2 separate regions of the Homo sapiens genome follow, and region 2 is linked to region 1. The links come from fine-mapping of genetic effects on gene expression. A gene starts in region 1. The other region holds a variant in brackets. All regions are shown on one strand. Distances are from middle to middle.

Region 1 (2,899 bases):
CCCCAAAAAAAAAATTAAAAAAAAAAAAAAAAAAGGCCAGGCGCGGTGGCTCACGCCTGTAATCCCAGCACTTTGGGAGGCCGAGGTAAGCAGATCACGAGGTCAGGGTATCAAGACCGTCATGGCTAACAGTGAAACCCCGTCTCTACTAAAGATACAAAAAATTAGCCGGGCATGATGGCGGGCGCCTGTAGTCCCAGCTAGTTGGGAGGCTGAAGCAGGAGAATGGCAGTGAACCCGGGAGGCGGAGCTTGCAGTGAGCCGAGATCTAGCCACTGCGCTCCAGCCTGGGCGACAGAGTGAGACTCCATCTCAAAAAAACAAAAACAAACAAACAAAAAACACCCTCCAGAATAATGCAGCACCTAGGAATTATAAAGCTTAATATGTAGCCGGGCACAGTGGCTCACGCCTGTAATCCCAGCACTTTGGGAGGCTGAGGCGGGCGGATCACAAGGTCAAGAGATCGAGACCATCCTGGGCAACATGGTGAAACCCTGCCTCTACTAAAAATACAAAAATTAGCTGGGCCTGGTGGCGCGTGCCTGTAGTCCCAGCTACTCAGGAGGCTGAGGCAGCAGAATCGCTTGAACCCGGGAGGTCGAGGTTGCAATGAGCTGAGATCGCGCCACTGCACTCCAGCCTGGCGTCAGAGCAAGACTCCGTCTCAAAAAAATAAAGAAAGAAAGAAAGAAAGAAAGAAATTTAGCATCCCTCTCTAGAGCCCCAAAATGCAAGGCAGACTTTTATCATCTTCTCAAGATTTTAATCTCCTGGGCTCGCTCCACGCCCCTCAGTGGCCATCTCATACTGCTCTGGGGAGACTGTTCTGGAAACAGGCCTGGTATGCTGGGTGTGCCCCTGACTCACTCCACCCCCTCTCCATGAGGCAACCCCTAAGCAGGCTGAGCTCCGAGCAGAGTTGCTGCCCAAGGGGAGCTCTGCTGAACGCGAAGACCCCTTCTCTGCTCGGGAGCCGCCCTCAACACCTCGGACTGGGTCCAGGGCCAGACAGCGTGAACCCGAGGGCCCCGCGCAGGGACCGGGGGGTGGCAGAGCAAGCAAGAGCAGGGCACGGGGTGGGCGGCATAAGCGAGACCTGCTGGGAGCGACAGAACCCAAACTACGGGAGCAACGGCGGGCGCCAGGGAACCACACCTCGGAACGGTCCCAGGGGAGACCAGGAGGGCGGCTGGAGAGAGCCCAGGAAGCGGTCTGGGCCGCGGGCAAAAAACACACCACGACCATCATAAGCTTCGAGGTCAGTGGCCCCGGGAGCTGAAGAGGGGCCGCGGGGTGGGTGAACCGAGACCGAGAGGACAGAGAGTCGCAGACGCGACCCCGGGAGACGGAGAACAACGGGCAGCCTGGGCCCATCTGCGGCGAAGGGGCCGGGCCCGGCAGGTACCTTGGCCGGCGGAGTCCATGTTCGGGCGGCGTCCGGACCGCTGTCGCGGGCGCTATGGGAGCCGAGCGGGCGGCGCCGGGAGAAGCTCGCCGCGTACACACTAGCCAGCGGAACTGCCTCAGCTCCGCGGCGTTTCGTAATCCGCGATGCGACGGCTACTTCCGCCCGGGCACGTGCTCCGCCTTCTTCCCGCCCCCACCAGTGATATCCAATGAGAGTGCCGCTTGGCCCGTCCTGGTTTACCCGACTCAACCTGATAGGCCGAAACTGCGGGCGAACCAGGAAAGGGAGGCGTGGTTCGGCGGGAATCCATTCCAGGTTGACTCCACCAGCGAGAATCACAGGTAGAACGGTCAGAGTAGCGGGAGGACTGGGAAGGTGGGAAGTGGGAGGACCGTCCAACATGGCGCTGTGGAAAGCCAGCGCAGGGCCCCAGGGGATCTTCCGGGGCGGATGCAGCTGCCTAGGAGTGCTGGGGCTCGCGCGCCTCGGCGGCTCAAACTCTGACCCCTTGAGATCCTTTCCAGCCCGACCCCTTACTTTAGGGGTCAGCCTGCCCCCGTAAGTCCTGTTATTTATTGTATTTATATTCTTTTTTTAGTTGGTCCTTTTTTGTTTGTTTTTGAGACGGAGTTTCACTCTTGTTGCCCAGGCTGGAGTGCCATGGCGCGATCTCAGCTCACTCCAATCTCTGCCCTCCGGGTTCAAGCGATTCTCCAGCCTCAGCCTCCCGAGTAGCTGGAATTACAGGCGCGCGCCAACACGTCCGGCTAATTTTCGTATTTGTAGTAGAGACGGGGGTTTCGCCACCTTGGCCAGGCTGGTCTAGAACTCCTGACCTTAGGTGATCCACCCGCCTCGGCCTCCTAAAGTGCTGGGATTACAGGCGTGAGCCACCGCCCCTCACGCCTGGCTAGTTTGTCCTTTTCATGGGGACTTTTTATTGTACGCGGGTTACTCTGAAAAAGATCGCGATTCGTCCCCTCGCCCTGCAGGCGCCGCTGCCGCCTCGCCTCGGGCGTGGACCCTGCGGCTCGGGCCTGCGCGTGTGCACCCCGAGGTTGTCTCACTTCCTGTTCAGGGCGACCAGCGCTGCGCCCTCCCCACTCCACAGATGAGGAAGCTGAGGTTAAAGTCACTTGCCCCAGGTCACTCCGCAAGTTGAAGCGCAACCAGGATACTCTGGAACAGGATGCCTGACTTCAGAGGAGAGGCGCGTAACCACCAGGCAACTGGCCCCACGAAAACAAGTCCCGCAACTTCCCTTCTTTGGCTCCTACTTGCTCCCGGAAGAAAAGCCTTAAACGGTATTCAAGCCCTTTAGGATCTGATGTCCTAGGACTCCACTCTGGGCTTCCAGCCTGGGGTGGTACTGGTCCCTAGGCATGGAAGCTCCTCCCACTGCCCCTTCCTTCACCCGGCCACCTCCTCCCACAGGTGTCTTCCTGGTACTCTTGCACAGGCCCGAGTCCCTTACCACCACGGCCTTAG
Region 2 (2,899 bases), 24 kb before region 1:
GAATGTGAGCCGGGCCAGGCCCATGCAAAGGCAGCACTGAGAAGGGGGGCACAGTTCTTTTAAAGGGTGCTAAAGACAGGGTTTTCCTTCTCTTGGCCCCTCCCATTCCCAGAGGCTCAAGAGCCCTTTAGGGCAGGGCATAGGAGCCAGCGGGAGCTGCCACGGTTGAGAAGAGAAGCAGGTTTTGTACACTGGGATGGAGTGTGCGTGACATAAAACACCTCAACTGGAAGAGGCTGCCACGCAGGCCAGGTGTAAAATTCCACACAATGCTCACAACCATTAAGGAACCCTCATCTATATACATATAAAAATTAGAAAGAAATAAAGCATAAGGCAATGTAAGGCTTGTATTTCAGCTTGAGTCCAAAGAAATAATATTCTATGAGGCTAAAGCTGCTTTGCCTAATTTAAACTTTTTGAAAAGTCCACTGCATTTAAAAAATAATGAATTTGCTTCCGTTAAAGCTAGATTCGCGTAACAATCAGGCAGCTGCTGAGGGTCAGTTTCCTTTCTGGGGGTCTCAGAAAATGGACAGTTTTCTCGTTCGGCATTTTGAGATAAAAAATTGCGTAACAGGTAGGACTTGCTGGGTGATTGCATTCCTTCTGTGAGTCAGGGAAGGAGGAGGAGGAAGAAGTCAGAAAATGCCACTTATTTTATGCTTAGAACTCTTCAATCCTTCAACATTCTGATGGGCTAACATGATTCCCAAAGGGAGCCTGGGCTTTGGCTCAATATTCTTTCAAACCCTCCGCCCTGTCCACTTCCTGCACCCCTAGGAAGGACAGCACAGTGATCTGTTTCATCTACAAACGTGAGTGTAAAACATCTGTGTACAAGCCTGTGTTCTTCAAATTCATGCAAACGCGGCAGCCACATCTCCGCGTGGATGGGCAGGACTGTCCTCAGGGCCGGCTCTGCTCATCCGCCCTGGCTGGCTGCTCCGCTGAACAGAGCTGCGGCTGTGATGCTGAGGCTGGGTTGCGTGTGCTCTGCAGCGGGTGAAGCAACCACAGGCTTAGAAAGGTGCGGGATCCGACAGGGGCTTGTCACCACTCCCCGCTGAGGAAGGGAGGTTGTCACTGCCGTTCTCTCTGTCACCCACAACCTTAGACTACAGGAGAGAAAAGATGAAGACAGAAAAACCTGAGACAGAGCACACAACACAAGGCAGATCCCAGGCCCATGCTCAATGCTCTACAAAAGCTTATGTAACACGAACACTGCTCAGCAGGGACAGGGAGCAAATCACGGACGGGCACCAGCCCCAACAG[G/A]TCTCCAGAGAACGATGCCAAATGAAGACAGTGAATGCCAAAAAGCTGCACACTGTATCGTTCCATTTACGTGACATTCTTGAAATGACACAATTATACAAAGGGAGAGTGGACTAGGGGTTGCCGGGGGTAGGGCGGGAGGAAGGTCAGCATGGCCAAGAAGGTACCAGGAAGGGCAGTGGGGACCAGGAAGGGCAGTGGGGACCAGGAAGGGCAGTGTGGAGGCGTTCTGTGTCCTGAGTCAGTGCCAATGTCCTGGTGGGGAGGCTGCACTACAGGATTTTCCAAGATGTCGTCACAGGAGAGAACTGTGTAAAAGGCACAAGGAACCTCTCTGCATTACTTCCCACAACTGTATGTGAGTCTACCATAACTAAATGACTAATAATAAACAAGTTGCTGTAACAGGTCACACCTTGCCAAGACCATCAAACAGTCCAGGTACAATTACCTTTATGGTCCCAACTCGGTCCTCAAACGACTTGAAGGTCGCAGAGTTCCTTTAAAGAGAGAGGGAAGAGTGTCGGTGTCAAGAGGAGAGGGTTGTGCTGCTCTCCTAACTCGGAAGGGCCTCAGGGTTAGGGCCAGCCTCCAAAGGGTCCCTAACAACATCCCAAGATCTCATGGCAAAACTGTGAGACAGCCAGGTCATTCCGGAGACTCCCCAGGTCAAAAGTGAGGTCGGCCATGCCCAACAACCACAGGGACAGGTCCAGACGTCACACAAGGCAACTGGAAACCCCTTGACTGTGCAGCTGGGGAGATGTCGGCCCCTCTCTGTCATACCCTACAGGGACATCCCGGGCTCTCGTACTGAGGTTATGAAAAGTCTGTGCAGTTGGGGGGCTGTCGGCCCCTCTCTGCTGTCCCCTACAGGGACACCCCGGGCTCTCGTACTGAGGTTATGAAAAGTCTGCGCAGTTGGGGGGCTGTCGGCCCCTCTCTGCTGTCCCCTACAGGGATACCCCGGGCTCTCGTACTGAGGTTATGAAAAGTCTGTGCAGTTGGGGGGCTGTCGGCCCCTCTCTGCTATCCCCTACAGGGACACCCTGGGCTCTCGTACTGAGGTTATGAAAAGTCTGCGCAGTTGGGGGGCTGTCGGCCCCTCTCTGCTGTCCCCTACAGGGATACCCCGGGCTCTCGTATTGAGGTTATGAAAAGTCTGTGCAGTTGGGGGGCTGTCGGCCCCTCTCTGCTATCCCCTACAGGGACACCCTGGGCTCTCGTACTGAGGTTATGAAAAGTCTGCGCAGTTGGGGGGCTGTCGGCCCCTCTCTGCTGTCCCCTACAGGGACACCCTGGGCTCTCGTACTGAAGTTATGAAAAGTCTGTGCAGTTCTTCATGCACATCTCTCAGAGAAGCAAACGGAAGACCAAGGACACTTCTGGGACAGCAGAGTGATAAGGAGACAAGAGGAGAAAGCAGGCCAGCTCCATCCCACTCAGTCCCTCCCACACAAACAGATACCCCTCCCAGGCCCGGGGACTCTAGAGGCCAGCACGTCTGCGACACCCAGCCAGAGTCCCCACAAGGAGAACAGGGCTCTCCTGAGAATCAGGGCGGTGCCTGACGGCGCAGGCACAGAATAGGGACCACAGTTCTGGGCTCTCCTGAGAATCA

What was found.
Region 2: its variant is fine-mapped to the expression of TPD52L2 in whole blood (INTERVAL, PIP above 0.99). The same link has a PIP of 0.9 or more in sun-exposed skin.

Annotation. Positions count from the first base shown.
Region 1 is chr20:63,863,894-63,866,792 of GRCh38, reverse strand. It overlaps TPD52L2 (TPD52 like 2), which reads right to left and starts at 1,523. Exons shown (of 7, transcript NM_003288.4): 1 at 1,409-1,523. The coding sequence starts at 1,427. It overlaps ABHD16B-AS1 (ABHD16B antisense RNA 1), which reads left to right and starts at 1,720. Exons shown (of 2, transcript NR_165314.1): 1 at 1,720-1,969; 2 at 2,523-2,899. RefSeq lists enhancers at 72-791, 1,513-2,233, 1,273-2,472, 2,566-2,795 and a silencer at 2,056-2,105.
Region 2 is chr20:63,888,069-63,890,967 of GRCh38, reverse strand. TPD52L2 (TPD52 like 2) reads right to left here. Exons shown (of 7, transcript NM_003288.4): 6 at 1,730-1,778; 7 at 1-1,118. The coding sequence ends at 1,023. Among named protein-coding and RNA genes, the nearest start is that of DNAJC5, 5.6 kb to the left of the region's middle. The variant G/A (reference allele first, on the strand shown) is at 1,279.